Regions from separate parts of the Homo sapiens genome. Here region 1 is linked to region 2. The links come from fine-mapping of genetic effects on gene expression. A gene starts in region 2. The other region holds a variant in brackets. All regions are shown on one strand. Distances are from middle to middle.

Region 1 (15,474 bases), 350 kb after region 2:
ATTCCAAGGCACAAAGAACTGCAAATTATAAAGGTCATTTCAGAGTTGATTTAATAATTTTGACACAAATCTGAAACTCAGGGATATAAGATAGACAAAAATACTACGACTCGAAGTTGTCAGCAAATAAGGTAATAGAACTATGAAAGAAGTAAAAATGTTAGATTTCGGTCAGGCGAGGATCACACCTATAGTCCCAGCACTTTGGGAGTCCGAGGTGGGAGGATTCCTCCAGCCCAGCCTGGGTAACATAGCAAGAACCCCATTTCTTTTCTTTTCTTTTCTTTTCTTTTTCTTTTGGACACAGGGACTCCTCCTGTGGCCCAGGCTGAAGTGCAGTGGTCACAACTCACTGTGGCCTTGACACTCAACCTCCTAGGCTCAAGGGATTCCCCCACATCCCTCCTGCCCCACCTCAGCCTCCCAAGTAGCTGGGACTACAGGCATGCATCACCACACTGGGCTAAGTTTATTTTTTGCAGAGACGGGGTCTCTCTATGTTGCTCAGGCTGGTCTCAGACTCCTGGGCTCAATCTATCCTCCTGCCTCAGGCTCCCAATGTGCTGAAGTTACAGGCCTGAGCCACTGCACCTGGCCTGCCTCTACATATTAAAAAAAAAGTTTATAATGCCATTCCTAATGAAAACCTAACACTGACATACCAAAACAAGTCTGTACTTTCCAACTCTGTCCACTGCATGGCCTAGAAGCCTCAAGCCCTCGGGTATGCCAAGCACAGCCGCCTGCAGTGGCTGGTTTCCGAAGACCCTTCCCGCTGCACGGTCTTGGGGGAAAGTCACAAAGGAGCTGGGGCTGCTGCGTTGCCCAGAAGCCGGGGCGGTGCCCGGAGACTCAGGAGGGCAGGTTAGAGGGAGCCAGAATTCACTCCAAGGCTCTGCTGGTCACATTCAGGGACAATGTCAAAACAGGTGACTGTGGCTCAATGAAACACATGGAAAAATAGCAAAAATTCCCGCCTCTAGAGACACAAAGGAGAGGCTGAGTCTAGAAAGGGACAACAGCCAGAGCTGGAGACCGGAGTCTCCCAGCACACCCTTCCAGCTGCTACTGCGGGGTGGTCAGGGCTTGGGCAAGGATGACACCCCCCCAGTCTGTGGCCTGCCTCGGTGGGACCAAATTACACAAACCAGGAAAGCAGACCAAGTTCCCCAAGCACAGCACCTGGGAGGCCCCTCACCCAGCCCCCCACCTCTATCGGAGCCTGCCTGAGCCTCCCGGTTTCCCTTCTAAAGCCCTCCCACCTGCCCGCCTGCTGGCCTCTGCCACACCCAAGGGAGGGGCCCAGGCCGCTGCTCCACAGGCCCTGAATTAAGAGGCCCGTGGTCCTCATTTGGGTGGTCTTCACAATTTCCACACGGAAAGACAGAAAAAAATAGGACCTGCACAAAAGCCGTCTTCAGTCAGCAGGGAAATGCAAACGAAGCCCAAAGGGACATCGCCCAGGCCCCTGGCCATGGTTAGAAGAGACATCACCCAGGCCCCCGTCCGTGGTCAGAAGGGACATCACCCAGGGCCCCGGACCTAGTTAGAAGGGACATCACCCAGGGCCCCGGACCTAGTTAGAAGGGACGTCACCCAGGGCCCCGGCCATGGTTAGAAGGGACGTCACCCAGGGCCCCGGCCATGGTTAGAAGGGAAAGAGATGCCATCCACCAGGACTCTCGCTGCTGGGAGTGTCCAGGGACACCACATAGGTAACGCTGAATTTAAGTAAAACCACGACGGAAACAGGACTGTGGTAACCCCTCCACCCTGTGTGCTCCATCCCATCGTCCAGCTGTACACCCTTAATAAATACAATTTATATCCATCAATTACACCGCAATAAAGCTGGGGAACCATTTTTTAAAAACTACCTCTTGCATGTAACGATTGATAAGAACTTGCAAAGCTGGGAAGGCACCGATTTAAAACTCGCGCCAACGCGGCTGCGCGTTGCCTGGAGGCCACGGCCTCGCCCGGCCCCTGCGCGGGCACTGGACGTCCCGCAGGCTGCATCTGGCGCCCCGATGAGCGCTCCTGGACCCCCGCGGCCTCGCTTCCAGCCACGACCTCCAGGGCACGGCGCCACCCCGACGGCCCAGCCAAGGCCTCCCCGCCGAGGCCGACGCCCTCGCCACGCCCTGGTGCCCCGAGGAGTCGCCGGCTCCCGCGCGCAGAGCTCCCCAAGCCTGGGCGGGCGCCTGGATAGCGCGACCGGCACGGACCCGCACGGGGTCTTGGCAGAGACGCGCGGGACTTGGCGGGGGCCACTCCCTCCTGGCGGGCGGGGCAGGAAACGCGCCGCGAGGCTGCGGGGGGCGAGGGGAGGGAAGGGGCGAAGGAACCTCAGCCTCCCCACCCCAGCCCCGCCCCCGGGCCCAGCTCCGACCCCGATGCGTCCCTGAGGCCTGGGTCCCAGGGGCTCTCCGCGCCCGGTCGCCCCTTCCCGGAGTCGCCACGTCCAGATCTTGTCACCGGCCCGGGACCACCTCGTGGGCCGGGCGGGGTGAAGTGCCGTTAGGAAGGACGGTCCCATGGGATGGGGGGCCGGGGAACAGGAGACGCACGCCAGGTCGGGAGAAGAGGACGGACTGCGCAGAGCAGAGGCCGCAGAGGGTCGGCCCGGGAGCGCGGGGGTCCCTCCACACGCTCCCCGTCCCCGCTTCCCACGCGGCTCCCTTCGGACCCCAGGGCAGGTGGGGACGAAGAAGTGAGTCGGGTCCCCGCTGCGGGCCGTCGTCCCCTCCAGCCAGGCCATCTCCAGGGCTTCAGGTTGGGGAAGGGGCTCCTGTGGCCTCCTGACCTCGGGCCTCGCAAGTGTCTGCCCTGGGGTAGGCACTGACTTGGTGTGGATTGATTGATGAATTGACTGGAAGAAGGAAGGCACCCTAGGAACTGCAGGCTCTTCCACTTAGGGCCTGGGTTTCAACTCAGTCCCCACTCACCACCTTTTCCATGTGTCTTCAAAGCCCCTCTTCACTCGGGGGTGACCCTGTCTGTCCAGAGGGCTTGCAGCCTTCAGGGACGCAGTTTCCAGTTTCTGGGCGCCCATATGGACTCTCCCCTGAAGGCCACCTCCCCTTCCCCTGGGAGCAGGGGGCCTGCAGTTTCTCCCACTGCTCACCTTGAACTTTCTTCCTCCGCCTGTCCGGGAAAGGCCCATCCGGCTCATCCCAAAGGCCCAGGGCATCTTGGTGAAAAACCCCAAGGGCGACAAACAAAAGACCTCTACGATCTGGTTTAGAGTAGACAAAGCTCCTCTTTTTCCCTCCAGCACATAGCTCATTTAAGAACAAACTTAGACACTGGATACTGTAGTTGGGTGAAGTGGCTCAGGCCTGTAATCCCAGCACTTGGGGAAGCCAAGGAGGGAGGATTGTTTGAACCCAGGAGTTTGAGACCAGCCTGGAGAACATAGTGAGACCCTACCTCTACACACACACACACACACACACACACACACACACACACACACACACACACAATCAGCTCCTGCTGGTGCACACCTGTAGTCCCAGTTACTAGGGAGGCTGAGACAGGAGGATCGCTTAAGCCCAGGAGGTTGGGGCTCTTGTGAGCCATAATTGTGCCACTGCACTCTAGCCTGGGTGAGAAAGCAAGGTCCCTGTCTCAAAAAAAAAAAAAAAGAAAAAAACTGGATACTTTGGCCCTCGTTGAGGATACGGACATATATATACACACATATGTACACTCACGCATCTATGGTGTAAAGTGGCAGCCATGACTGTCTCTTCACCTGACTTGTCTAGAAATGCTCAGCTCCTGAGGCAGTGACCCTAGAGGGACAGAGACTGCATCTGGGAGAAATGTGGAAGGGTCAGCTGCGTCCAGTGGGCTCCCTGAGACACTGCAACTGCTTTGTCCGGGTCGTGTCTACTAAGTGGAACTCAAGCAAGAGTCTCCGTCTCTGATGCTGGAGTGGAATGTCCACGGGGGCAGGTAATGAAGAAGGGAAATTCAGGAGCAGCTGCAGCCCCAGCAAGACAGACAGAAATCCATGTCAGTTCCTGATTCCTTTTGCTTAAAACACCTCCTTTACAATTTGCTTTAGTGTAAATGTTAGTGACAAACTCCTTTGTGCTGCAAGTGTCTTTATTTGGCCCTTATTTTTTATTTATTTATTTATTAGAGTCTGGCCCTGTCACCTAGGCTGGAGTGCAGTGGTGCCATCTCGGCTCACTGTAGCCTCCAGCTCCCGGGTTCAAGTGATTCTCCTGCTTCAGCCTCCCGAGTAGCTGGGATTACAGGCACGCGCCACCATACCTGGCTAATTTTTGTATTTTTAGTAGAGGTGGGGATTCACCAGGTTGGCAAGGCTGGTCTTGAACTCCCGACCTCAAGTGATCCACCCACCTCAGCCTCCCAAAGTGCTGGGATTATAAGCGTGAGCCAGTGTGCCCGGCCACATTCATTTTTAAAAATTTGCAGCCATTTGCTTTTCAAATGTTTTGCTCTGGTCCAGTTTCTGTCCTTCTGGGGGCCTCAAATTCCACCTATGTGAGACTCCCCTACCTTTGTCTCTTCTCCCTCTTCTCTATTTATTACTTTTTTGGTCTGTTCTGAATAATGTATCTTATATCTCTCAGTTCATTGATATTTCTCTTCACCTGTGTTTAATCTACAGTTCATTTATCAATTAAGCATAGCAGTTTTAAAGCTGTTGTGTCTTATTAAACCAGTATCTTGGGTCTCTATGGGTCTGTTGTTATCTGTTTGGTTTTGTTGTTGCTTGGATTTTTTTTTTTTTTAAATCTTATTCAGTATGGACCTGTTTATCTTTTATTATATACTAGATAAATCCTCTGTAGAAATAACTTGAAACTTGGGTTATTCTCTTCCTCCAGAAGAATTTCAATGGTTTCATCCAGATGCCTGGAAGCACTAACAATAAAAGAGCACCTTAATCTAATTTCAGGGCTTGAGATTTTCCTGAAAAATCTCCCTAAAAGTGGGTTTCAGTCTCTCTGAAGGCTGATTTACTTAGTTTACCTTCACTTCCAGGATGCAACTTTTGAGATCCCAGCCCACAGCAGCAGATGTTTTACCTGGATTCCTAATCTTGGTGAGCTGTGGACTCTGTATTGATTATTTGTTGCTATATAATGAACCCAAGGCTTAGCAGTCTTAAATTTAAAAGATTTATTATTTCTTATGAATCTGAGTGTTGGCTGGGCTTAGCTGGATGGTTCTTCTGGTTTACATGGTTTTGGCTTAGGCCACACATGCCCTACATTCAGCTAGGAGCCCAGCTGGGGATGGAATATCCATGCGTTCACTCACACAGCTGCTGCCTCATCAGGGATGGCTGGATTAGCTTGGGGCTAGGAAACTCTCTCTTTCTCTTTGCATCCTCTCTTGTCATCCAGGAGTCTAGCTTTGAGCTTATTTATGTGGTGGATGAGTTGCAAGAGGACAAAAGAGGAGACTGTCAGTCCTTTTAAAGGTTTGGCTTGGAGCTGACACAATATCGCATTCTATTATTCAAAGGAAGTCAACAGCCAGGTCCGATTCTAAGGGACGGGAAATAGACTCACCTCCTTATGGGAGCTGCAGCTTTTGTGTGCAGGGGGAATAGCTGGTGGTCATTTCTGCAGACTGTCTACCACAAACCTCAACGTTTACACCTGTAAGCCTTTGGAGCTTTCAAAAGTGCAGCGCAGGCCAGTCGCAGTGGCTCACACCTATAATCCCAGCATTTTGGGAGGCTGAGGCTGGAGAATCACTTGAGGCCAGGAGTTCGAGACCAGCTTGGCTAAGACAGCAAGACTCCCACCTTTACAAAAACTAAAAAAAAAAAAAAAAATTACCCAGGCACGGTAGTGAGCACCTGTAGTCCCATCTACTCAGGAGGCTGAGGTGGGAGGACCGCCTGAGCCCAGGAGCTTGAGGCTTCAGCGAGCTGTGATTGCACCTTTGCACTGCAACCTGGGTGAAGGCCTCCCCTCTCCTGCATGGTGGTGTCACCTTACACCTCCAGTGACGACCTTCTTCAGTGCCAGAAGGGGTGTGTGAGGGGAAAAAAGCTGATTTTCTCACCTCTCCCTGTAGTCCTGCCTTCCCAAGTGGCCCTGGAGGCTCCAGGCCTGCTGCTGTCGGAGAGGGGAGGGGGTGGGGGGTGGAGACACATCCACGCCTCAATAGTGAATCTTTGTCCCAAAGCTGTCCCCTGCCCTGCTGTTCTCTGACAGGGCATTGGGCTGTCAGGGAAAAGGCTGGGGATTCCCATGGGACCGGCAGTGTCCCGGGCTCCCTTGCTGGCCTGGGTCTCGGCCTCTCAGTATGTCAGACCTCGACTGGGGAAAATGCACCAACTCCCTGCGTGAGCTATTCCTCCACAGCCCGCCTCCTCCCACACCCACCCCTGGACCCACCTGTGCTCACGGGACCCAGGCCCACCTCCCCTAGCCCCCGAACCCCGTCCCGTTTCCCTGAAGTCACAGATCCTGATCTTTCTCCATGTGAGCCCACTGGACTCAGCTGACCCTTCCACATTTCTCCCAGATGCACTCTGTCCCTCTAGGGTCACTGCCTCAGAAGCTGAGCATTTCTAGACAAGTCAGGTGAAGGGACTGTCATGGCTGCCACTTTACCCCATAGATGTGTGAGTGTACATATGTGTGTATATATATGTCTGTATCCTTTGCATGCAGTCCCCCCACATTGCCTACAGTCCCCTCTGGAGTTGGGACCGGCTTAAC[G/A]AATTGATTCTGGAAGTTATGCTCAGAGGCTAGGCCCAGAACCGACTCCTCCAACCCTTCCGGTAGCTTTGTAAGTCCCGGTTACATCTGGTAAATCGGCCCTGCTTAAATTCCCTGCAGGGGTTCTGCCTCCTGCACCCCGACTGCCACAGCATTGGCTTCCAGAAAGAAGCGGCCTCAGCACCAGGCAGCAGGCTGGGGCCGGGCCAGCACCTGCAGCTACAGACCTCCAGGTTGAACAAGATCAATTCACCGCTCATCACAGGGAGGGAGAGCACCCACCACAGGGAGCCACAGGGTGTCTCAGTAAAAAGGTGTTAGAAAGGGCTTAGATTTGGTCAAAATGACAGTGAGATATCATCTCACCCCAGTTAAAATGGCTTCTATTCAAAAGACAGGCAATAACGAATGCTGGCGAGGATGGGGAGAAAAGGGAATCCTCGTACACCGTGGGTGGGAACGTAAATTAGTACAGCCACTATGGAGAACAGTTCGGAGGTTCCCCAAAAAACTAAAAATGGAGCTACCATATGATACAGCAGTCCCACGGCTGGGTATATACCCAAAAGCAAGGAGTCAGTGTATCAAAGAGATGTCTGCACGCCCACGTTTACTGCAGCACTGTTCACAATAGCCAAGATTTGGAGGCAACCTAAGCGTCCATCAGCAGATGAATGGATCAAGAAAATGTGGTGCATGTACACAATGGAGCACGATTCAGGCACAGAAAAGAATGAGATCCTGTCATTTGCAACAACATGAGGGAACCGCAGGCACCTTGGGGGGCCCACAAACAAAGGATAAATGCTGAGGTGACGGGCACCCTACTTACCTGATATTATTATACAGTGTATGCCCGTATCAAAAGATCCCATATGCCCCATAAATACATACACCTACTATGTACCCACAAAAATTAAAAAAATAAAGGGCTTCGCTTTGGGCTTGCATGAAGTGAAGGAAGCTCGAGGAAACAGGGATTGCACTGGATTAGATGCTTAGGAAGCAGGAGGTTACATGATTGACTATCATAATATATCTTTTTTTATTTTTATTTTTTTGAGACGGAGTTTCACTCTTGTCGCCCAGGCTGGAGTGCAATGGTGTGATCTCAGCTCACTGCAACCTCTGCCCCCTGGGTTCAAGAGATTCTCCTGCCTCAGCCTCCTGAGTAGCTGGGATTACAGGCATGCACCACCACATCTGGCTAATTTTTGTATTTTTAGTAGAAATGGCGGGGTATCACCACATTGGCCAGGCTGGTCTCAAACTCCTGACCTCAGACGATCTGCCCGTCTCGGCCTCCCAAAGTGCTGGGATTACAAGTGTGAGCCACTGCACCCGGCCTATCATAATAAATCTTATCTGGAAGGAAGGCAGACTAGAGAGAAGCTGAAGTTGTCATTGGTAAAGAAGCAGTCATCACTCCTGTTGGCCAAGGTTCGATGATTTGACGTGGTTTGGACAGTGTTGGTATTTCCATCTATGTTTCGACATGACTGCAGAATGCTCTTATTTTATCTTCATCCGTCATAGTCACAGAGTGGCCATGTCTGATGTTGACGTTCTGTGAAATTATTTATGTTCAGCAGGAGAACACCGTGGCCTAAATGTAGATGCCAGGCCAGCTCCCAGATGTCAGCGGCAGCAAGAAGCTATCTCTGCAGGCTGGGAGGCTGGTGAGCCCTGCACTGCCACAGGAAAACATGTGACCAAACTCTTGTCTTCAGCGGCTTTGACGGTAGACCATGTAGCGAATGCAGTTGTCAAAATGCACTGATAGACAGCGTCTCCCCCTCCCCACTCTGCACTGTCTCCTCTCCTACAACCCAAACTGATGTCCACACAGGGAGGTCTTTATGACCAGTTGATTGAGGGGGGAAAATCTCATCCTGGCTTAGAGATGGTCCAGAAGTAGGTGGCTACAGCACTCCAGTCCCACTCAGGGTGGCCCTAAAGAAGAGTGGTGGCCAGGTGCAGTGGCGCATGCCTGTAATCCCAGCACTTTGTGAGGCCGAGGCAGGCAGATCACCTGAGGTCAGGAGTTCGAAACCAGCCTGGCCAACAAGGTGAAACCCCGTCTCTACTAAAAATACAAAAATTAGCTAGGCATAGTGGCATGTGCCTATAGTCCCAACTACTCGGGAGGCTGAGGCAGGAGAATCACTTGAACCCGGGAGGCAGAGGTTGCAGTGAGCTGAGACTGCACCACTGTACTCCAGCCTGGGCAACAGAGCGAGACTCTGTCTCAAAAAAAAAAAAAAAAAAAAAAAGAACAGTGGTAAAGGAGAGTCCTCTCAGTTGTCATGTCATTACTTCATGTGCCGCATTTGTTTGTTATACTTTGCCTGGACTGGAAGATGGCCAGAAGTATGGCTCTATACTGGCTTATGGACTAGTATAGAGGCTAATGGTTTGGCTAGATCATCAGAGACTTGGAAGAAATCAGGTTGGGAGATTGGTATTGAGGTGGTCTGGGAAAGGACGGACCTCTCTGGATAGGCAGACTTTGAGGGTACCTTGTCACATGTGAATGCTCATCCAAAAGCATCTTCTAGAGGGGGCTGTCAATAATCAGGTGGGCAAGACAGTCTTTTCTGTGCATTGCAGTCAGCCTCTTTCCCCAGCCATCAGAATGGTTGCTCAATGGGCCTGTGTACAGAGTGACCAAGGAGGCAGGGAAGAGGCTGTGCATGGCCTCAGCATGGACTTTGCCTCACAAGTCCGACCTGGTTATCTTCACTGTTGAATATTTAACCAATAACAGAGACCCTGATATATGGCATCATTTCCTGGGAGAATAATTAGCCACTTGGTGGAAACTTGATTACATTAGATCCCTTCCATCACGGAAGGAAAAGCAATTTGTCCTCACTGGAATTTATTCTGGATATAGATTTGCTGTCTCTACGTGTAATGCTTTTGCCAGCACCACCATCCACAGAATTATAGAATGCCCTGTGGACCTTCATCATATCCCATAAAACATTTCTTTGATCAAGGAATTGATTTCATTGCAAAAGAGGTGAAGCATTAGGCTCATGGCCATGGAATTCAATGATCCTGCTTTTTGTTCAATCACCCAAGAGCAGCTGGCCTGATAGAATGGTTGGATGGGCTACCAAAGACTTATCTTAGCACCAGTTGGGAGATACCACCCTGAATGGATAGGCCCCCATCTTACGGTTTTGATATAATCTTTATTCAGTGATTAATATATGGTGGTGTTTTTCCCACAGCCAGAATATAGGAGTTTGGGAGTTAAGGGGTGATAGAGGGGAATTGGTTTGTTTCACTATTATACTTAGTGACTCAGTACGTTGTTTGAGGCACCTCCTGGTACTCCCATTCCAACAGTAAAAGGTTATCACAAACAACGCCAACAAAAAAATGGCAGAACCCTACTGAAAGTTCAGATCTTTCATGAATGAACATTTGGGTCATACTACTAGATGAAGAACCCCAACCAACCAGGGCCTGGCTGAGGGCAAAGAAAACATGGAATGAAAGAAGAAAAATCTAAAAATCAAATACTAGCAAACAATTCAACGGCCCATTCAAAGGATCATACATCATGACCAAGTGGGATTATTCCTGAAATGCAAGAATGGTTCGACATAAGAAAATCAACCAATATAATGCCCCACATTACCTGAATGAAGGGAAAAGAAACATGATCATCTCAATTGATGCAGAAAAATGCATTTGAAAAAAAATCATACCCTTTCATGATAAAAACATTTAACAAGATAGGACTAGAATGCAACTACCTCAACATAATGGAGTCCATATACGAAAAGTCCATAGTTAACAATCATACTCAATGGTGAAAGACAAAGTTTTTCTTCTAAGCTTAGGATCAGGACAAAGATCCTCAGTCATTCTTGCCACTTGTGTTCAACATATATTGAAAATAATAACCACAGCAATTAGTCAAGAAAAAGAAATAAAAAGTGTCCACATCAGAAAGGAAGGAGTAAAATTATCTCTGTTCACAGATGACATGATCTTATATGTACAAAACCCTAAAGACGCTACCAAAAAATCCTGTTAGAACTAATAAATCCAGAAAAGTTGCAGAATACAAAAATCAACACACAAAAATCAGATTTTTTTTTTTTTTGAGATGGAGTCTCGCTCTGTCACCCAGGCTGGAGTGCAGTGGGGCAATCTCAGCTCACTGCAACCTCTGTCTCCTGGGTTCAAGCAATTCTCCTGCCTCAGCCTCTGGAGTAGCTGGGATTACAGGCGTCCACCACCACACCTGGCTAATTTTTGTATTTTTAGTAGAGATGGGGTTTCACCATGTTGGCCAGCCTGGTCTCAAACTCCTGACCTCAGGTGATCCACCCACCTCGGCCTCCCAAAGTGCTGGGATTACAGGCGTGAGCCACCGTGCCCAGCTGATCAGTTGCATTTCTATACACTAACAATGAACAACCTGAAAAGGAAATTAAGAAAACAATTCTATTTACAATAGCATTGAATATAATAAAATACCTAAGAATAAACTTAACCAAGAGGCAAAAGACTTGTACACTGGAAATTATGAAACATTGCTGAAAGAAACTAAGGAAGACACAAATAAATGAAAGACATCTCATGTTCATGGATTGAAATGCTTAATATTGTTAAGATGTCAATACTACCCAAAGCAATCTACAGATTCAAGGCAATTCTTATCAAAGAGCCCAATGGCAGTTTTTGCAGAAATAGAAAATCCATCCTAGAATTCATATGGACTCTCAAGGGACCTCGAGTAGCCAAAGTAACCTTGAAAAAGAACAATGTGGCCGGGTGCGGTGGCTCACACCTGTAATCCCAGCACTTTGGGAGGCTGAAGCGGGCGGATCACCTGAAGTCAGGAGTTCAAGACCAGCCTGGCCAACATGGCGAAACCCCATCTGTACTAAAAAATACAAAAATTAGCTGGGCGTGGTGGCGGATGCCTGTAATCCCAGCTACTCGGGAGACCGAGGCAGGGAGAATTGCTTGAACCCGGGAGGCAGAGGTTGCAGTGAGCCGAGCTCGTGCCATTGCACTCCAGCCTGGACGACAGAGCCAGGCTCCATCTCAAAAAAAAAAAAAAAGATTAAGATGGTAAGTTTTATGTTATGTGTGCTTATACTACACAATTTAATAATCAACTATGGGCCGGGCACGGTGGCTCACGCCTGTAATTCCAGCACTTTGGGAGGCTGAGGAGGGTGGAACACCAGGTCAGGAGATCGAGACCATCCTGGCTAACACAGTGAAACCCTGTCTCTACTAAAAATACAAAAAAATTAGCCGGGCATGGTGGTGGGCGCCTGTAGTCCCAGCTACTGGGGAGGCTGAGGCAGGAGAATGGCGTGAACCTGGGAGGCGGAGCTTGCAGTGAGCTGAGATGGTGCCACTGCACTCCAGCCTGGGTGACAGAACGAGATTCCGTCTCAAAAAAAAAAAAAAAAAAAAAAATCAACTATGGGCCGGGTGTGGTGGCTCATGCCTGTAATCCCAGCACTTTGGGAGGTCAAGGTAGGTAGATCACTTGAGGTCAGGAGGAGTTCAAGACCAGCCTGGCCAACATGGCAAAACCCCGTCTCTACTAAAAATACAAAAATTAGCCAGGCATGGTGACGCACGCCTGTAATCCCAGCTACTTGGGAGGCTGAGGCACCAGAATCGCTTGAACCCTGGAGGTGGAGATTGCAGGGAGTCGAGATCGCACCCTTCCAGCCTGGGTGACACAGCGAGACTCTGTCTCAAAAATAAATAAATAAATAAGTGATAAAAATCAACCATGGCCTCATGATCAGTTTCAGAGACAAGGACTGTAGCAGCCATGAGCAGTTTCTTCCTTGTTATGTGGATGTGTACACATAGAAACTATCTTCTTTCTCTCCTTTTCCCCCGTTATTTTATAGACGGGTTGTTAATGTGGTTCACAAAATTTTCAAAGCTGGCAAAAGGAGCATACATTTCACAGAAAAGGAAAACACATGTAATTTTAAACCCTCCCCATGAGTTCTCAGTATCAGCAGCAATCTGAATAATACAAATAGAAACCAAATACATTGGTCAGAAGTCTGTGGATAACTGGGAGAGGCAGAAGACTCACCCGTACTGTGGGTCATTAATGTCGCAGCCTCCTTGACTTTCATTCCTGGCCTGGCGTTCCTTGGTGGTGCTGAGCAGACAGAGCCCACAGCCAGGAGGAGAGAACAGCGGAGGGCTTGAGGTTTGCCCACCCGCAAGCTCACAAGTCAGCCTGCCCCTGCTCCACAGGTCCATCGGCTGTGAATGGGGCCTCCAGGTCCCCGAGCGCTCTGACAGGTGGTTGTATTCGATGCTGGCAAGTTCACTTTGGAGTTCTTGCAGCCTTCCTTGCCTCTGGAGGGACTGAGACAATGTGTGTGTGACATACAAAGTCTAGAAATTTGACACACAGGAAAAGCAGGACAATCCAGCATGTAGGGCTTTAATTTCATGTGTGCCTGTGTGCGTCCATGCTCACTCAGAAAGCAAGGTCACAGGAGCTGGCCATGTGGCTCTGGCCATCCCTGACATTGACTAGTCAGCCAGAAACCCACTGCACTCTAAGCTGAAAACTTGAATCTGAGTGGGAGTGTCTGAGTTCCTCCAGGGAATCTAAGGGCAGAAACGGCTATTTGGGAATGTTTTCTTGGATCGAGGCCTGATATCCAGAAGGACTGGGATCCAAGGACACAAAACCTCTCCAGAGGCCCTCCTCAGCACAAGCAGGTGGAGAGTCAGAAGGGCAGGACTGTTGGGGTGGGGGCTAAGGGAATTCCCAGCTTGCAGTCATGGGGGCCCAGCTCTCTGCTGTCGTGGTGGTGGGAACAGGAGGCTGTTTCTTCTCCCTGGGCTTTCTCTGCACAGCCCAATCCAGACAGTGAACAAACTTGTGTTTCTCCTCTGCTCCAGCAGGAGGAGGGGGCAGCTCTGGACAACGACAGCTGAGACCAGGAAGATGCTCCCCACCCATCACTGGCCCCTCCCCACATTTGATATGCCCCCTTAGAGAGATGAATAAGGGCTTTGCCAGGAGGGACCCCAGAAGACAGAGGTCAGGAGGGGAGTGAGTCAGCCGGGTTTCCAGCTTCAAAAGTAAGCATCCCAACCCCCAACCTGTCCTAGGAGGGAGAGGAAGAGATAAAACCCAGGGTACAGTCCCCGCCTAGCCCTCTTCGGAGGTGAACTTGCCATTAGGTTCTAAAATGTATTTTTTTCATGTTAAGGTAAAACTTGTTTTTCTAGTAAAACATCACATACAATATAAATAGAAATGACCAGAGCCTTCTCTAACCATCACTATATAAATAACATTCCGTTAACAAAATCAACTAGTTCAGATCACAGGCATAGTTGTGAGCTTTCTTCTTTATTTTTTTTAAGAAGGATGTTCAGATGGTTAAGTTGGGTTCCTAAATTTGAAAAATATGTTGCAGCTGGGGAGGTAAAATCATTAACTTGTGCAAATGACAAACAACTCATATCAAAGATACATTTTAAAAAGCATAAAACGATACTGTTAAACCAATTCGAGAAAAATTTGTTATTATGTGAAAAGTGTATGATCCAAAAGCATTCTCACATGCTTTACTTCTACGTCAGCACCTGAGTTACTGTTAAGCTATGCAGATATGCAGACAAAATATCTTTATCTGGCAAACAACAAGAAAGACACTGACTGCTGAAGCACTCTTGCAAACAACGCACCGGGAGATCGTGGTGCTTTTCCCCTCAGTTACTAACTTGTTTCCTGAAAAATAAGAAGCAAAGAGGCAGACTATGAAAACTTCAGGAATTATAGAATATTAAAAACTATAAGCTTCAGGGCCGGACAAGGTGGCTCACGCCTGTAATCCCAGCACTTTAGGAGGCTGAGGCGGGCGGATCACGAGGTCAGGAGTTTGAGACCAGCCTGACCAACATGATGAAACCCCAGCTGTACTTAAAATACAAAAATCAGCTGCGTCTGGTAGCAGGCGCCTGTAATCCCAGCTACTCGGGAGGCTGAGGCAGGAGAATCGCTTGAACCCGGGAGGCAGAGGTTGCAGTGAGCCGACACTGCGCCACTGCACTCCAGCCTGGGCGACAGAGTGAGACTCTGTCTCAATAAATAAATAAATAAATAAATAGGCACTGGGTAGAAATACTGAGCTCTGGAAATCAGGAAAAGGGATGGACATATTGAAAACCAACTGTGGCAAATTAGCCAATGAACCTTTCCGACAGCCTCGTGTGCTGGGCATTGGCGGGGAGGCACCTCGGGCGGGATCAGGGCCTCCGTCTCGCGCACCGCCAGCGTGAACACCTGGTCCATCCTCCGCTGGATCTTGGCCGTGACCCCCGGGAACGGGCAGGGCCCCTCGCGGGCCCGCGCCATCAGCACCTGGCGCTCGGAGTCCCGGTCGGCCTGGGTGCCCACCAGCACCAGCAGGACGGCCCCGGGTTCCCACAGCCCGCGCAGGCGCTCGCGCAGCGGCCTCACGGCCGGGAACGAGGCCTCGCTGCACACGCCCCGGAGCACCGCGAAGCCGTCGCCGTGGCGGATGTCCAGGTCCTGGAGCGTGACCAGGTGCTCGGCGTCCGCCGCGTCCACGATTTCCAGCAGCGCGGGCGCCGCGTTTGCCTCGATCTCCTCGCGGAGCCGCTCCTCCGCCCACGCCGCGCACTGCTCGGGGAGCGGCCGCACGCGAACTGCGTGTCCAGCGTGGTCCTGCCCACGTCACGCTCCCCAGCAGCA
Region 2 (15,474 bases):
AGCTACTATTTAAAAGCGAGGACAAGCAGCTTGGGGGAGGAAAATGTCCTTTGGTAAGAGGAAGAGCCCTTTGTAGTGCGAATAATTACCATAATTGCTAGTTTCCACAGTACAAGCCTATGATTCATGGTGTCCCATTGGCTATGCTGGGGACAGAAGGCTCTTCCATCCGGCCCTCATGTCTGCGGGGAGGGCACGCTAGACCCTCACAGTCTCCTGAGAAGCAGCCTCAGTTCTGCCCTTGTCACAGAGAGGCACATGTGCATTCCTACTGGTCAGGCCGAATCTGCATCTTTGGGTCTGGGAGGGGAGTTAACCTTCCGGTTCTTGTGAAAATCTTTTTTCAGCCGGGCGCGGTGGCTCACGCCTGTCATCCCAGCACTTTGGGAAGCCGAAGCAGGTGGATCATTTGAGGTCAGGAGTTCGAGACCAGCCTGGCCAACATGGTGAAACCCCGCCTCTACTTAAAATACCAAAAAATAAGCTGGGCGTGGTGGTGTGCACCTGTAATCCCAGCTACTTGGGAGGCTGAGGCACAAGAATTGCTTGAACCTGGGAGGCGGAGGTTGCAGTGAACCAAGATCGTGTCACTGCACTCCAACCTGGGTGACAGAGTGAGACCCTGTCACTATATATATATATATATATATATATACACACACACATATATATATACGTATACATATATATATATATACACACACACGTATATATGTGTGTATATGTGTACATGTGTGTGTATATGTGTATGTGTGTGTATATATATGTATACATGTGTGTATATATATGTGTGTATATATGTGTGTGTGTATGTATGTATGTATGTGTGTGTATATATATATATACATATCTCCTTTCTTCTTAACTGTAAATTGGCAGGCTGGAGAGCCCTACACCAGGCTTCTCCATGCTGGCTCTGCAGGCCAGGCCTGCCTCTCCAGCCCCCTCTGCTTTTACTAAGCTCCTGAGTACTCCACCAAGGAGCACTCCCACCCCAGCATCTCTCCCTCCAGAAGCCAAGATTCGGAAGGGGAGACACTGAGACGTTTCTCCTGCACCCTATTCCTGGAAGTGCCCGTACATGACACAAAGCTACCATGGGGAAACCACCAGGGAATAATGAAGAGAAAAATGTTAGCAAGCTCTTAGCGTTCTTGCTTCCTGTTCTAACTCTCAGTTCTATAAAGGCTTTGAGTTCCCATCTGAGAAGGAGTCAGGAACTTCATATTTACTGAGGGTTAGGGTCCCCAGCCCCCTATTCTACATGGATGCTAGACAAATCCGCAAACCCGATCCAGCAATATAAAAGAAGGATAATCCACCAGAAGGGCAAACACTAGAAAGTCAATGAAAACAGTCTCCTAATTTCAGGAATGCCAACGAGATGGGAGAGCTATCCAGGCTGGAACACTTTCACCCAACGCTGGAGTGACCACAGCAGGAAGCCACCCCTGCTGTATACATACGTTAATTATTTTTATTATCTTTAAGGCCCTAGTCAACCATCTCTTTCCCACCACCAACAGACACAAGGCCTGCACCTCAGTATTGTCTAAAGATGATTAGACAATTTGTCTAAAGATGATTTGTGGGCTGGGCTTGGTGGTTTACACTTGTAATCCCAGCACCTTGGGAAGCCGAGGTAGGTGGACTGCTTGAGCTCAGGAGTTTGAGGCCAGCCTGGGCAACAAAGTGAGACCCCATCTCTATAAAAAAAATTTTTGTTTTCAGTCTCTGTAGAGACTGTCAAAAATTGCCAGTGCTGACTATATTGCAAGTCATCACGGCAGGGTATTGGGAAAAGTTTTCAATTATCAATAATCACACCTCAGATAAATCTCATTGGCTACAATACTGCCGCTGTGCAAAGCTACAAAAAAAAATTTTTTTTTTTTTTTTTTTTTGAGAAAGAGTCTCGCATTGTTGCCCAGGCTGGAGTGCAGTGGCGCGATCTTGGCTCACTGCAGCCTCCGCCTACCAGGTTCAAGCAATTCTCCTGCCTCAGCCTCCCGAGTAGCTGGGATTACAGGCATGCGCCACCACGCCCGGCTAATTTTTGTATTTTCAGTAGAGACGGTGTTTCACCACGTTGGCCAGGCTGGTCTTGAATTCCTGACCTCAGATGATCCACCTGCCTCGGCCTTCCAACGTGCTGAGATTACAGGCACGAGCCACCGCGCCCTGCCAAAAAAATTTTAAAAATCAGCCAGGTGCGGTGGCACATGCCTGTAGCCCCAGCTACTAAAGAGGCTGAGGCAGGAAGATTACTTGAGCCAGTGAGGTTGAGGCTGTGGTGAGCTATGTTTGTGCCACTGCACTCCAGCCTGGGCAACAGAGCAAGACCCTATGTCCAAAAAAGGGAAAAATATGGTTATTTGTGGACTTGTTCCAACCCTCCTCCTCTCAGAAGTTAGGTGCCCAACAGGCAGGCCCAGGGTGGTGCTCCCTTGCATCCTCAGGAGACCCTGCCTGGAGCTGCAAACAATAAACTTCTGATAGATTCCAAAGATGGACATGGTGGATTCAGCCATTCTCCATAAGCATCAACCTGCCTGCCCCTGCACCACCATGCAAAGGCCAAGCACTGCTCTAGGCACCAGGGAGGCATGTGTTAGCATGCAGAGCTCCTGCCTGGAGAGCCATCTGTGCATGTGTGAAAAGAGGCACACACATTCATTTCTGTATCTCTGGCACCTCATGAAGAACCTGTGCAGGAAATGCCAACCACCCTGAGACAAATGTTTCCATTGGTGTTTTAAGCACCACAATACAGGACACGGTTTTCAAAAATACATGAGACTTTATCAGATGTCTTGTTTAAATCAATATGCAATGGCTCACTCTTTTTTTTCTTTTTGAGAATGAGTCTTGGTCCATCGCCCAGGCTGGAGTGCAATGGCGCGATCTCGGCTCACTGCAACCTCTGCCTCCTGGGTTCAAGCGATTCTCCCGCCTCAGCCTCCCAACTAGCTGGGATTACAGGTACCACCATCATGCCCGGCTAATTTTTGTATTTTTGTAGAGACAGGATTTCACCATGTTGGCCGGGCTGGTCTTGAACTCCTGACCTCAGGTGATCTGCCTGCCTCAGTCTCCCAAAGTGCTGGCAAGGTGTGAGCCACCATGCCTGGCCGGATCACTCTTATTTACCAGTTTAGTAACTCTAACCAGAAAGAAGATGGGGTTAAACTCTAACCAAAAAGAAGATGGGGTTAAAATGGCTTGTTCTTATGAAAACTCAGGTTCAAATGACTTGTAGGTTCTACCAGTCACAGAAAAATTCAAACCTTAGTAAACAATCCACGGAAACAGGAAAAGAAGGCATACCCTACAGCTCATTTTTGAAGCTAAAAGTGACTTTGGGCCAGGCACAGTGGCTCATACCTGTAATCCCAGCACTTTGGGAGGCTGAGGTGAGCAGATCACCTGAGGTCAGGAGTTCAAGACCACCCTGGCCAACATGGTGAAACCCGTCTCTACAAAAAATACAAAAATTAGCCGGGCATGGTGGTAGGCACCTGTAATCCCAGCTACTCAGGAGGCTGAGGCAGGAGAATTGCTTGAACCCGGGCGGTGGAGGTTGCAGTGAGCTGAGATCACGCCACTGCACTCCAGCCTGGGTGACAGAGCAAGACTCCATCTCAAAAAAAAAAAAAAATTAAAAAAAAAGGTGGGGAGGTGATGGAGGCAGAACCTATGGATTAAAAAGAACTAAAAGGGAGTATCTCTGAACCTATTCTGGTTCAGGAACTTCCGGATTAAAGAAAAAAAAAGAACTAAAAGAGTCAGACTAATTCTTACGTGCAAACAAGTTTAGGAACCAATGATGCAAACTACATAGGTAAGACATAAGCAGGCATGAAGTGGCTAGGGAACAGAATTTAAAAGTCTTAATTTTTTTTTCTTTACCAAAAGCAGTTATATTTCTGAAAAGCTGAGTTTTAAAGATGGATTTGGAAGGAAGAATGGTGCCTGACTCTTAAGTTCTATAATATTTTTCAATTAAAAGCTGGTGCTGGCTGGGCATGGTGGCTCACACTTATAATCTCAGCACTTTGGGAGGCCAAGGCGGGTGGATCACCTGAAGTCAGGAGTTCGAGACCTGCCTGGCCAGCATAGTGAAACCCCATCTCTACTAAAAAAAGAAAAAAAAATTAACCAGGCGTGGCAGCATGCGCCTGTGATCCCAGCTATACTCAGGAGGCTGCGGCAGGAGAATTGCTTGAACCCAGTAGGCAAAGGTTGCAGTGAGCCGAGACTGCGCCATTGCACTCCAGCCTGGGCAACAGAGCAAAAACTCCATCTCGAAAAAAGAAAAAACGAACAAGGCAGAGAGGTCTCTCATCTTGAGAACAGACCCATGGTAAGATTTATTTTACTTTAACAAGAAGTCTAAGGCTGAGAGTGGTGGCTCACACTTGTAATCCTAGCACTTTGGGAGGCCCAGGCAGGCGCATCACTTGAGGTCAGGAGTTTGAAACCAGCCTGGCCAACAGGTGAAACCCTGTCTCTACTAAAAATACAAAAAAATTAGCCGGGCATGGTGGTGGGCCCCTGTAGTCCCAGCTACTCGGAAGGCTGAGGCACGAGAATCGCTTGAGCCCGGGAGGCAGAGGTTGCAGTGAGCTGAGATCACGCCACTGTACTCCCACCTGGGCGACAGAGGGAGACTCCAACTCAAAAAAAAAAAAAAAAAAAAAAAAAAGAAGTGTATATGACAATAGAGAAATCCTTATTTGGGTGCTGTTGTTTCTTTCCAGCACAAGTTCACAAAATAAGCTAGGGAAAATCCCCCCCGCCCGGGAAATGTCTTGGTTGATTTCCCGTTTGCTCTCTTAGAGCATTTTCAGACACCTGCTCTATCTTTCTGCCCAAAGATAGAGATGCTGGGTGGGTTTCTATGTTCTAGGGATAGAAGGCAAGGACTTGGTCACTGTAACACAGAACTGAGCTAGCCACTTGGGTGTCTGGTTGGCAAGTTGCCCTGGTAACTCCTTGTTTAAATTGTAAACTAGATAGACCTTCAAAGCTACAATTATGAAAGTGTACTAACAGCCACAGCCCAACAGAAATGAAAATGTACAAGCAAGTACATTTGCAATTTTTAATTAGCTTTTTTTTTTTTGAGATGAAGTCTCCCTCTGTCGCCAGGCTGGAGTGCAGTGGCGCGATCTCGACTCACAGCAACCTCCGTCTCCCGGGTTCAAGCGATTTTCCTGCCTCATCCTCCCGAGTAGCTGGGTCTACAGGCGCGCGCCACTATGCCCAGCTAATTTCTGTATTTTTAGCAGAGACGTTTCACCATGTTGGGCAGGATGGTCTCACCTCTTGATTTCGTGATCCGCTTGCCTCGGCCTCCCAAAGTGCTGGGATTACAAGCGTGAGCCACGGAGCCCGTCCAATTTTTAATTAACACTTTTTTAATACTTCTTTAATTATTGTTTAAACCAAGTTTTCCAGCCTCCTTCATTAGCCTGTTTGGTATTTGCATGCTTTGCTTGAATATTTTATCTCCAGCCCATTCCACACCGTTAGTCAACATTTTCATCTGACAGACGGAATCAAGGCCTAGGCCTCCCTTAAACAAAACATCCCTCCCAAAAGTACCACTTATAAAAATTGCTTGCCACAGACATTCTTGCTACAGACATTCTTTGCGGATCTTTGGCCAGTAACATGCATATACCCACACATAGTTTGCAAATAACAACTATTCAACGTGAAGTGCTACAAAAGTACGATGATAAAGTGCTCGCCGCTTGAAGAAAAGCACTAATAATTGTAACAAAGCCAAAACACACACACACACAACGAAAAAAAACGCACGGTAAGCCAAGAGCTCTTTAAAAATAAAAAATAATCATTCTCGGGAACAAATAAGGTAGGTACAAACTTGCCAGGTGACTCTGTTACGCTTAAAGGTTCTGGCTGTCAACAGTCCCCGGCGTGGTGGCGGCGGCACCCTCAGTCCCATCCGACTGAGGGCGTTGATGCGGGAGCCTCGGGGCTGCGGGACTGTTCGGGATAGGACGCGAGAGCACCTGGACAAAGGCCTGAGGCGGCTGTGCAGAACAGGGAGTGGCCCCGAGGCCCGGGTTTGTCTTCCCTTCCGGTCACCCCTCCCGGCCCAATGTCCCCAGGCCCCTGCTTACCCCGCTGGGCGCCGTATCCCTGCGCTCGGCGCCGCGCTCCGGAGCGAGTTGACAGCCGCGGCAGGCGAAGGCGCGGCAGAGAGGGGGGAGAAAGGTCTTCTTCCCCGCCCGCAAGACCACCATGGCCCCACGCCCCCTGGCTCCCGCGGCGCACGGCAGCATTGCGACGGCGCGAGGGGCCGCTTTACGGCAGGGTCGCGAAGCCCGAGGAAGCGCGGCGGCGCGGCCGACCGTGCGCTTTCCCAGCGGTGCGACGGGGTGAGGGGGCGGCGGGCGGCGCGGGCTGACCCGGGCGGCCGCTCCTTGGTCGCGGTCACTCCAGGCTGCCTCGCTGCGCCGCTGGCGGTGGGCGTGGCGCTGCCGGCGGCTAGGCGCGGACGCCGGAGGAGGTGTCCCCGGGTTTAGGGGTGTTCGGCCAGGGGCGGGGCTGCCGGGCCCGGGCGACTGCCGGAGCTGCGGAAGTCGTGGAAGCGTCGGCGACGCATCGCGCGATGGCGCGGGCGGGACAGGTGAGCGAAGCGCGGCTTGTAGCCTTTTCCCTCTCTCGGGGGGACGAGTGGGGCACCACCTCCGCGCGGGGCTCCCCGCTGGGCCACCCCTTCGCCAGCGCCCAGCCCCGTGCGGCCTGTCGGATCAGGCAGGGCAGAGTCGGTCTCGGCGCTGTCCCCGCCCCTGGGGTCGGAAGCGACCGGGGCTGGCCGGGCCTGGTCTCTGGTGTCTCCGGCCGGGCCTCGGTTCCCCTCCTCCCCCGGCTTCCCCCGGCCGGGCCGAGCTCCCCTCGCGCGCCCATTGTGAGGTCACGTCCTGCAGGCGCGCCCTGGCACCCGGGCCAAGACGCCCGGAGCGGCTGCTGCAGCCAGTAGCGGCCCCTTCACCGGCTGCCCCGCTCAGACCTAGTCGGGAGGGGTGCGAGGCATGCAGCTGGGGGCCCAGCTCCGGTGCCGCACCCCGTAAAGGGCTGATCTTCCACCTCGCCACCTCAGCCACGGGACGCCAAGACCGCATCCAATTCAGACTTCTTTTGGGTAAAGGGCCAAGAGGGAAGGGCGAGGCGGGGAGGAAGCAGCTCGGGCCGCCTTCCCTCCGTGGCCTCCAGGACATCCGCCGGGGATAGATTATGCGTTTCCATTGGTTACCCACCTTGAGCGAGCCGTTTGATAGAAACCAAGAGCTTGAAACGTGCATTAGGCCATTGTGGACTCCCAGTGGGAGGCGAGTGAATGAATTATTCATAGTTACCACGTTTTCGCGGGTTGTTTTTTTTTGAGAGAGTGGAGCATGTTGGGGGCTGAGGAGGTGTTGGGCCTCGAAAGCCCAAGGTGGTGCCCTTCAGCGCTGTCCCGGTCGCTCTTCTTTACCTGTGGGGTTTTAATCTCTTCAGGGAGACTTCTGTGAGGGAAGATGTGTGAGGAGCTAAAAGGGTGGGGAGGGGAAGTGCACAAAGGGATGGAGAGAAACGAAGAAGCGGGGACCTTGGGGATGTCTGAGAGCCACTGGTTTTTGTTCTGGTTCTTTCTTTTGCTTAGAGTTTCTGGAAACTAGGCATAGCTGTGTGGCGGGGCGGGGTACTGTTAGTGTTCGGAAGGTTACAAGAGCTACTGTTTCACCTTTCATAAAGGTGCCCTGCTGGTTCCAAATAGTTTGTGTCGCGTACGGTGACTCACACCTTAATCCCAGCACTTTGGGAGGCGGAGGCGGGCGGATCGTCTGAGACCAGCCTGGGCAATATAGTGAGACCTGTCTCTACTAAAAATAACATTAGCTGGGCGTAGTGGTGTACGACTGTAGACCCAGCTACTGGGGAGGCTGAGGTGGGATGACTGCTCAGAAGTATACCTTTTTAAAATGAGAATTTTAGAATGACTTAATATACCATTAGTGTTCTGCAGAAGCCTTGTGCTGTAGTAAGTTATCATTCTTGTCGTCTTTTAGTGCTTGTGAAACTGAACACAACAAAAGTATGGATATGGGAAACCAACATCCTTCTATTAGTAGGCTTCAGGAAATCCAAAAGGAAGTAAAAAGTGTAGAACAGCAAGTTATCGGCTTCAGTGGTCTGTCAGATGACAAGAATTACAAGAAACTGGAGAGGATTCTAACAAAACAGCTTTTTGAAATAGACTCTGTAGATACTGAAGGAAAAGGAGATATTCAGCAAGCTAGGAAGCGGGCAGCACAGGAGACAGAACGTCTTCTCAAAGAGTTGGAGCAGAATGCAAACCACCCACACCGGATTGAAATACAGAACATTTTTGAGGAAGCCCAGTCCCTCGTGAGAGAGAAAATTGTGCCATTTTATAATGGAGGCAACTGCGTAACTGATGAGTTTGAAGAAGGCATCCAAGATATCATTCTGAGGCTGACACATGTTAAAACTGGAGGAAAAATCTCCTTGCGGAAAGCAAGGTATCACACTTTAACCAAAATCTGTGCGGTGCAAGAGATAATCGAAGACTGCATGAAAAAGCAGCCTTCCCTGCCGCTTTCCGAGGATGCACATCCTTCCGTTGCCAAAATCAACTTCGTGATGTGTGAGGTGAACAAGGCCCGAGGGGTCCTGATTGCACTTCTGATGGGTGTGAACAACAATGAGACCTGCAGGCACTTATCCTGTGTGCTCTCGGGGCTGATCGCTGACCTGGATGCTCTAGATGTGTGCGGCCGGACAGAAATCAGAAATTATCGGAGGGAGGTAGTAGAAGATATCAACAAATTATTGAAATATCTGGATTTGGAAGAGGAAGCAGACACAACTAAAGCATTTGACCTGAGACAGAATCATTCCATTTTAAAAATAGAAAAGGTCCTCAAGAGAATGAGAGAAATAAAAAATGAACTTCTCCAAGCACAAAACCCTTCTGAATTGTACCTGAGCTCCAAAACAGAATTGCAGGGTTTAATTGGACAGTTGGATGAGGTAAGTCTTGAAAAAAACCCCTGCATCCGGGAAGCCAGGAGAAGAGCAGTGATCGAGGTGCAAACTCTGATCACATATATTGACTTGAAGGAGGCCCTTGAGAAAAGAAAGCTGTTTGCTTGTGAGGAGCACCCATCCCATAAAGCCGTCTGGAACGTCCTTGGAAACTTGTCTGAGATCCAGGGAGAAGTTCTTTCATTTGATGGAAATCGAACCGATAAGAACTACATCCGGCTGGAAGAGCTGCTCACCAAGCAGCTGCTAGCCCTGGATGCTGTTGATCCGCAGGGAGAAGAGAAGTGTAAGGCTGCCAGGAAACAAGCTGTGAGGCTTGCGCAGAATATTCTCAGCTATCTCGACCTGAAATCTGATGAATGGGAGTACTGAAATACCAGAGATCTCACTTTTGATACTGTTTTGCACTTCATATGTGCTTCTATGTATAGAGAGCTTTCAGTTCATTGATTTATACGTGCATATTTCAGTCTCAGTATTTATGATTGAAGCAAATTCTATTCAGTATCTGCTGCTTTTGATGTTGCAAGACAAATATCATTACAGCACGTTAACTTTTCCATTCGGATCATTATCTGTATGATGTGGTGTGGTTTGTTTGGTTTGTCCTTTTTTTTGCGTTTTTAATCAGAAAACAAAATAGAGGCAGCTTTTGTAGATTTTAAATGGGTTGTGCAAGCATTAAAATGCAGGTCTTTCAGAATCTAGAACTAGGCATAACCTTACATAATACTAGGAAAATTATGAGAAAGGGGAAATTTTTGGTTAAATAAGAGTAAGGTTCAAACACAAGCAGTACATGTTCTGTTTCATTATGCTCGATAGAAGGCTTTTTTTTCACTTATAAGGCCTGATTGGTCCTACCCAGCTTAACGGGGTGGGGTTTTTTTGTTTGTTCAGACAGTCTGTTCTTTTGTAAACATTTTTAGTTGGAAAAACAGCATCTGCATTTTCCCCATCCTCTACGTTTTAGAGAGGAATCTTGTTTTTGTGTGCAACATAAGAAAATTATGAAAACTAATAGCCAAAAAACCTTTGAGATTGCATTAAAGAGAAGGGATAAAGGACCAGCAATAATACCTTGTAAGTTGCTTTTGTTTGTAAAATCTGAGCTTATAGTTTTCCTTAGTGAGTAAATTCATAAGGATGGGAACATTTAAATTAAGTTAATGGGCCTTTAAAAAAAAAAAAAGGAAACACTCATACCTGTAGTTGGAGGATGAATACTGGAGACGGGTTACCAATGTCAGGTTATACTAAAACTAAATCAGAAAGTCTGAATGTAGCACATAATGGTTCTCTTCTGTTGTCCAAGGCTGTAAAATGGACAGCCTTGTCACACCTCCCCGGTGCTGTTTTACAACGTGAGGGTAGACGCTGTCAGTAACCCAGAGGGACCAGGCCTTCCTAGGTTTTCTAGGCAGTCAGCTGTTAACCACTCACTTAGTAAATGTCATAACTACACCTGCTCCAGGACCAATCAGTGAAACCTGCTCGGAATTAAAGGCTTCCTCTGGGTGCCTGCTGAACAACTGAGCTCATGTCATGGGCATGTGGTGGTTTCTCTGTTGCCTGAAAGAGCCATTAAAGTCAGTCGTGCGTGAAGCATCTCTCTTCTAAAGGATGTGTATTTCCATAAATGCTTTCTGAGGATCCGGTACAAAATGATTTCCCAAAGTTCTGAAGTGCCTTGAGAACATGTGGGTCCGAGTGTTATAACAGACTCCTCCCCCGGGTCACCTTTTGCCTGGTCATCCTGTTAGAGTACATCTTTGGAAATCCAGGGTAATATTCTCTTTCAGAGATGCTCATTGTGTAACTCTGTGTAGGGAGATAGTCACTTTAAACAGCTCAAAGTAGCTAGCTAAAGGAGTAGCCTTAAATACCTAAAAGATGACAGAAGCATAGCCCTTAACAAATCTTCAGCTTGTCTCTCAGTATTTCCCAATCATGAAAATCCCTTGCTATGTCTTTCCTACTAGAAATGTTCTAGAATCGCTGGACGGTGGGGTCAGAGGGCAGTCGGTATTTAGGCCGTGAGCTTCCCATACTACTGCAGGTCCAACTCCTGGCAACCGCGGGCTCAAGGCAGGTCATTGGAATCCACGTTTTGGCCACAGTAGTTGTAGGATTGCTTTTCTGTATCATAATTTTAGAATGCTCTTAAAATCTTGAGGAAGAGTTTTTATTTTTTATTTATTTTTGAGATGGAGTCTCTGTTGCCCAGGCTGCAGTGCAGTGGTGCCATCTCAGCTCACTGCAACCTCCACCTCCCAGGTTCAAGCGATTCTCCTGCCTCAGCCACCTGAGTAGCTGGGAGTACAGGCATGTGGCACCATGCCTGGCTAATTTTTGTATTTTTAATAGAGTTGAGATTTCACCATGATGGTCAGGCTGGTCTCGAACTCCTGACCTCGTGATCCGCCCGCCTCGGCCCCCCAAAGTGCTGGGATTAACGGGTGTGAGCCACGGCGCCCAGCCCAGGAAGAGTTTTTAAATTAGAGCTCTGTTTAATTATACCACTGGGAAATCATGGTTACGCTTCAGGCATATTCTTCCCCAGAGTACTACTTACATTTTAAATTTCATTTTGTAAAGTTAAATGTCAGCATTCCCTTTAAAAGTGTCCATTGTTCTTTGAAAGTAGACGTTTCAGTCATTCTTTTCAAACAAGTGTTTGTGTACCTTTTGCCAAGCTGTGGGCATCGTGTGTGAGTACAGGGTGCTCAGCTCTTCCACCGTCATTTTGAATTGTTCACATGGGTAATTGGTCATGGAAATGATCAGATTGACCTTGATTGACTGTCAGGCATGGCTTTGTTTCTGGTTTCAATCTGTTCTCGTTCCTTGTACCGGATTATTCTACTCCTGCAATGAACCCTGTTGACACCGGATTTAGCTCTTGTCGGCCTTCGTGGGGAGCTGTTTGTGTTAATATGAGCTACTGCATGTAATTCTTAAACTGGGCTTGTCACATTGTATTGTATTTTTGTGATCTGTAATGAAAAGAATCTGTACTGCAAGTAAAACCTACTCCCCAAAAATGTGTGGCTTTGGGTCTGCATTAAACGCTGTAGTCCATGTTCATGCCAAAAATGGCTGGGAACGTTTGCTTTATTTACATTCAGTCAGCGTTGCTTTCAGATCACACTTTATCCACACAGGAAAGCCAGTCAGCCTATAATGAAGTAGTTATTAAAATAAATGTAATGAATATGTCTACAAAGTATAGTTTAGTGGTTTATTTTGCTAAAATGCACATATATTTGATATAATTTAGTTTGAGAAGTTCAGCTAGTTTTTCTCCTTTGTTTGACTTTGTCAATTTCTATCTGGTTTTTAAGGGTCTGAGCTTAGCTTGTGCATGCAAGGTTTTGGGTTTTTTTATTTTTTTTTTGAGCACAGCTTTTCACCTTTTAATTTGTTGGGTATTTTTCTCTTAATAAGAGAAATATTGGCCATCGATTTTTACATATAATACAAGTGTGTTTTTCCAGTACATTGGTTCCTGTCCCCTCTCTGTGAACTGTTTGAGTATTGGAACAGTATGTCTTCAATAATTCAATGTTACTTTGAGATACATGTGTTAATATACCCTTAGTTATTCTTGAAATAAAACCAGTCTCTTACGCTTGCAGTGGAGAAAGGCTGTGAGTCTGAGGTGTGTGTTCTCTATATATTATCACCTTCATGAACTGTCTGACCTGGGTGCGGAGCCCTTTTTTTTTTTTTTTTTGAGACGGAGTCTGGCTCTGTCACCCAGGCTGGAGTGCAATAGCGCGATCTCGGCTCACTGCAACCTCCGCCTCCCAGGTTCAAGCAATTCTCCTGCCTCAACCTCCCGAGTAGCTGGGATTACAGGTGCCTGCCACAACGCCTGGCTAATTTTTTGTATTTTTAGTAGAGACAGGGTTTCACCATGTTGGCCAGGATGGTCTCGAACTCCTGACCTCAGGTGATCCACCCGCCTCAGCCTCCCAAAGTGTTGGGACACAGGTGTGAGCCACCGTGCCCAGCTGAGGAGTCCTTCCTTAATGGAGCCCACAGCAGGCAGGCCTGGGGGCAGGTGGCCTCCTTGGCTGCAGTTGGTGGCCATGCTGTAAGGAGGTGAGGGTGGTTGTGTGTGGGCCAGGACCCAGGCCCAGGTGACCAGGTCACTGTGCTCTTGTTGAGACAGCCTAGGAAGTATGTGTGTGATGGGGGTGGGGGCCTCATGCTCTGCTCCCTCAGGAGGATGCCTGGGTCTCAAATAAGAATTGACTTTATTTTTAGAAAGAAGAACCTCTGAGACAGTTCTTGAAAGATCCACTCTCCAGAGGAGAGTTGTGATAGTGTGCTATGAAACCGTCTTCACTGCTTTGTGACGGAGGTGTGGGAGTCTTTCTGTCTATTCGGCCCTTCCCGGCTGTGTGAGGTGTTCTGACTCCGGCCTCCGGCCCTCTCCCAGCCCTAAGTCTAGTGAAGCCCGTGTGCTTGGACTGCAGACGTGCCTGGCTCACTTCGGGCAGTTGTTTGTCTATTTTAAGTCCGCTATGTGACAGCAATAAGTTTTCCTATTTTTAGCCCTTTCCTATTGTATTTTTTGTTTTGTTTTTTGTTTTTTGTTTTTTTGGGGGGAGCGTTTTGTTTGTTTGTTTGTTTGAGGCGGAGTCTCTCTCTGTCACCCAGGCTGGAGTGCAGTGGCGCGATCTCGGCTCACTGCAAGCTCCGCCTCCCGGGTTCACGCCATTCTCCTGCCTCAGCCTCCCGAGTAGCTGGGACTACAGGCGCCCGCCACCATGCCCGGCTAATTTTTTGTATTTTTAGTAGAGACGGGGTTTCACTGTGGTCTTGATCTCCTGACCTCGTGATCCACCTGCCTCAGCTTCCCAAAGTGCTGGGATTACAGGCGTGAGCCACCGCGCCCGGCCTTCCATTGTATTTTTGTTGTCTTCTCTGCCTGCTTTTATCTTCCAGGTGATCCAAACAGGGGCAGCCTTTGCAAGCCTTGCAAACGCATGATAGGCCCAGAGCCAAGAACAACGATGTGTATAGGTTGAAGAGAAACACTCTGGGGGAAATGTGAGCTTTTGAATAAATCCTTGGCCACACGTGAGGATTCTTATCACTTATACTGGCAACAGCATTAACCAGGCTCCTAGTGTATCCTCGTGTTGCGCTGAGGATTGAAGAATCCATCATGCCACCAGTGGCCATGGAGAAATTCCAGTTTAGTCAGAGAAGGGATGAGGGGAGTCAGCTGCGCCTGGTCTGTCTCAGGTGTGAATGTCTGGTGTCAGGTCAGGTGTCAAGTGCAAGCCGGAAAAAGACCAGTGGCTTAGGGAGGGGTCTCACTGGCCCTTCAAGGCTGGTTAGAAGTAGGACAGGAGACGGTGGGTGTGGCACCGGGAATCATGGCACTTTGGGAGGCTAAGGTGAGAGGACTGCTTGAGCCCAGGAGTTCAAGACCAGCCTGGGCAACACAGACCCCATCTCTACAAAAAAATCAATATAATTTTTTTTTTTTAAAGAAGAAACCCTGGAGTGGGCTGAGCTGGAACGAGGTGGCAGGGGCTGAGGGGCAGTGCCCTGGCAAGCTTGGCTCTTGATTCTGGGTACAAGCTGAGCCCTAATTGAAGGCCTCTTATATGCAGGTCTGGGGTCGCCCCTGCTGGTCAGGACATGTCTGAGGGCATCTTACAAAATGTTTTGGGTTCTTTTGTTTTTTTATTGAAACAGGGTCTTAATATGTTGCCCAGGCTGGTCTCGAACTCCTGGGCTCAAGCGATCCTCCTGCCTCAGCCTCCCAAAGTGCTGGGATGACAGACATGAGCTACTGCACTTGGCCTTGCTTTTCCATTTTGTGTAGTTATCATTGCACAGATTTTGGGGTGGGGGTGGGGGTCACCAGGCAGCCTTAGGACTCTGTGTCCCTAGTTCTAGGTCTCTTCAGCTTGTGCCCTTTTTTTATGCCAGTCACCAGCAGGCTATTTCAGGCTATTTCACCTATTTGCCCTCTTGGTCTTTCTAAAAGCACGGCTCTGCTCATATGGCTTTTCTGAATGAAAACCTTCAGTGGCCTCCACTATTTCACCCAGCCACGTCCCTGCGAGGCCCTGAGTGGTGTGGTCCAGGCTGCCCCAGCAGCCCCATCTCCACTGCCCAGCCATCTGTGCAAAATGTTCTATGTACATTTTAAGCTCTCAGCACCCCTTGAGGCAGGTTTTTCATACTATCTGTTTCATAGGTGATTCTGAGATTCAGGTGGTCCCTTGCCCAGGGAACTGCCCAGAGTCACTTGGCAAAGGAGGGAAGGACAATTTGGTTACAGTTCATGAGTCATGGACTTACCTGGAGAGTTGAAGAAATGGCTGGTGCTTGGGGCCCACCCCAGCGATTCTGGTTTCATCG

Evidence for each region.
Region 1: its variant is fine-mapped to the expression of BAG5 in lymphoblastoid cells (GENCORD, PIP 0.95).

Annotation. Positions count from the first base shown.
Region 1 is chr14:103,207,490-103,222,963 of GRCh38, reverse strand. It overlaps LOC124903391, which reads left to right and starts at 14,094. Exons shown (of 2, transcript XM_047432044.1): 1 at 14,094-15,474. The coding sequence starts at 14,947. The variant G/A (reference allele first, on the strand shown) is at 6,723.
Region 2 is chr14:103,553,803-103,569,276 of GRCh38, reverse strand. It overlaps BAG5 (BAG cochaperone 5), which reads left to right and starts at 6,620. Exons shown (of 2, transcript NM_001015048.3): 1 at 6,620-6,661; 2 at 8,085-12,726. The coding sequence starts at 8,113. The coding sequence ends at 9,456. COA8 (cytochrome c oxidase assembly factor 8) reads right to left here and starts at 6,317. Exons shown (of 5, transcript NM_001370595.2): 1 at 6,153-6,317. The coding sequence starts at 6,275. It also overlaps the pseudogene RNU4-68P. RefSeq lists a silencer at 6,363-7,012 and enhancers at 7,353-7,402, 7,502-8,015.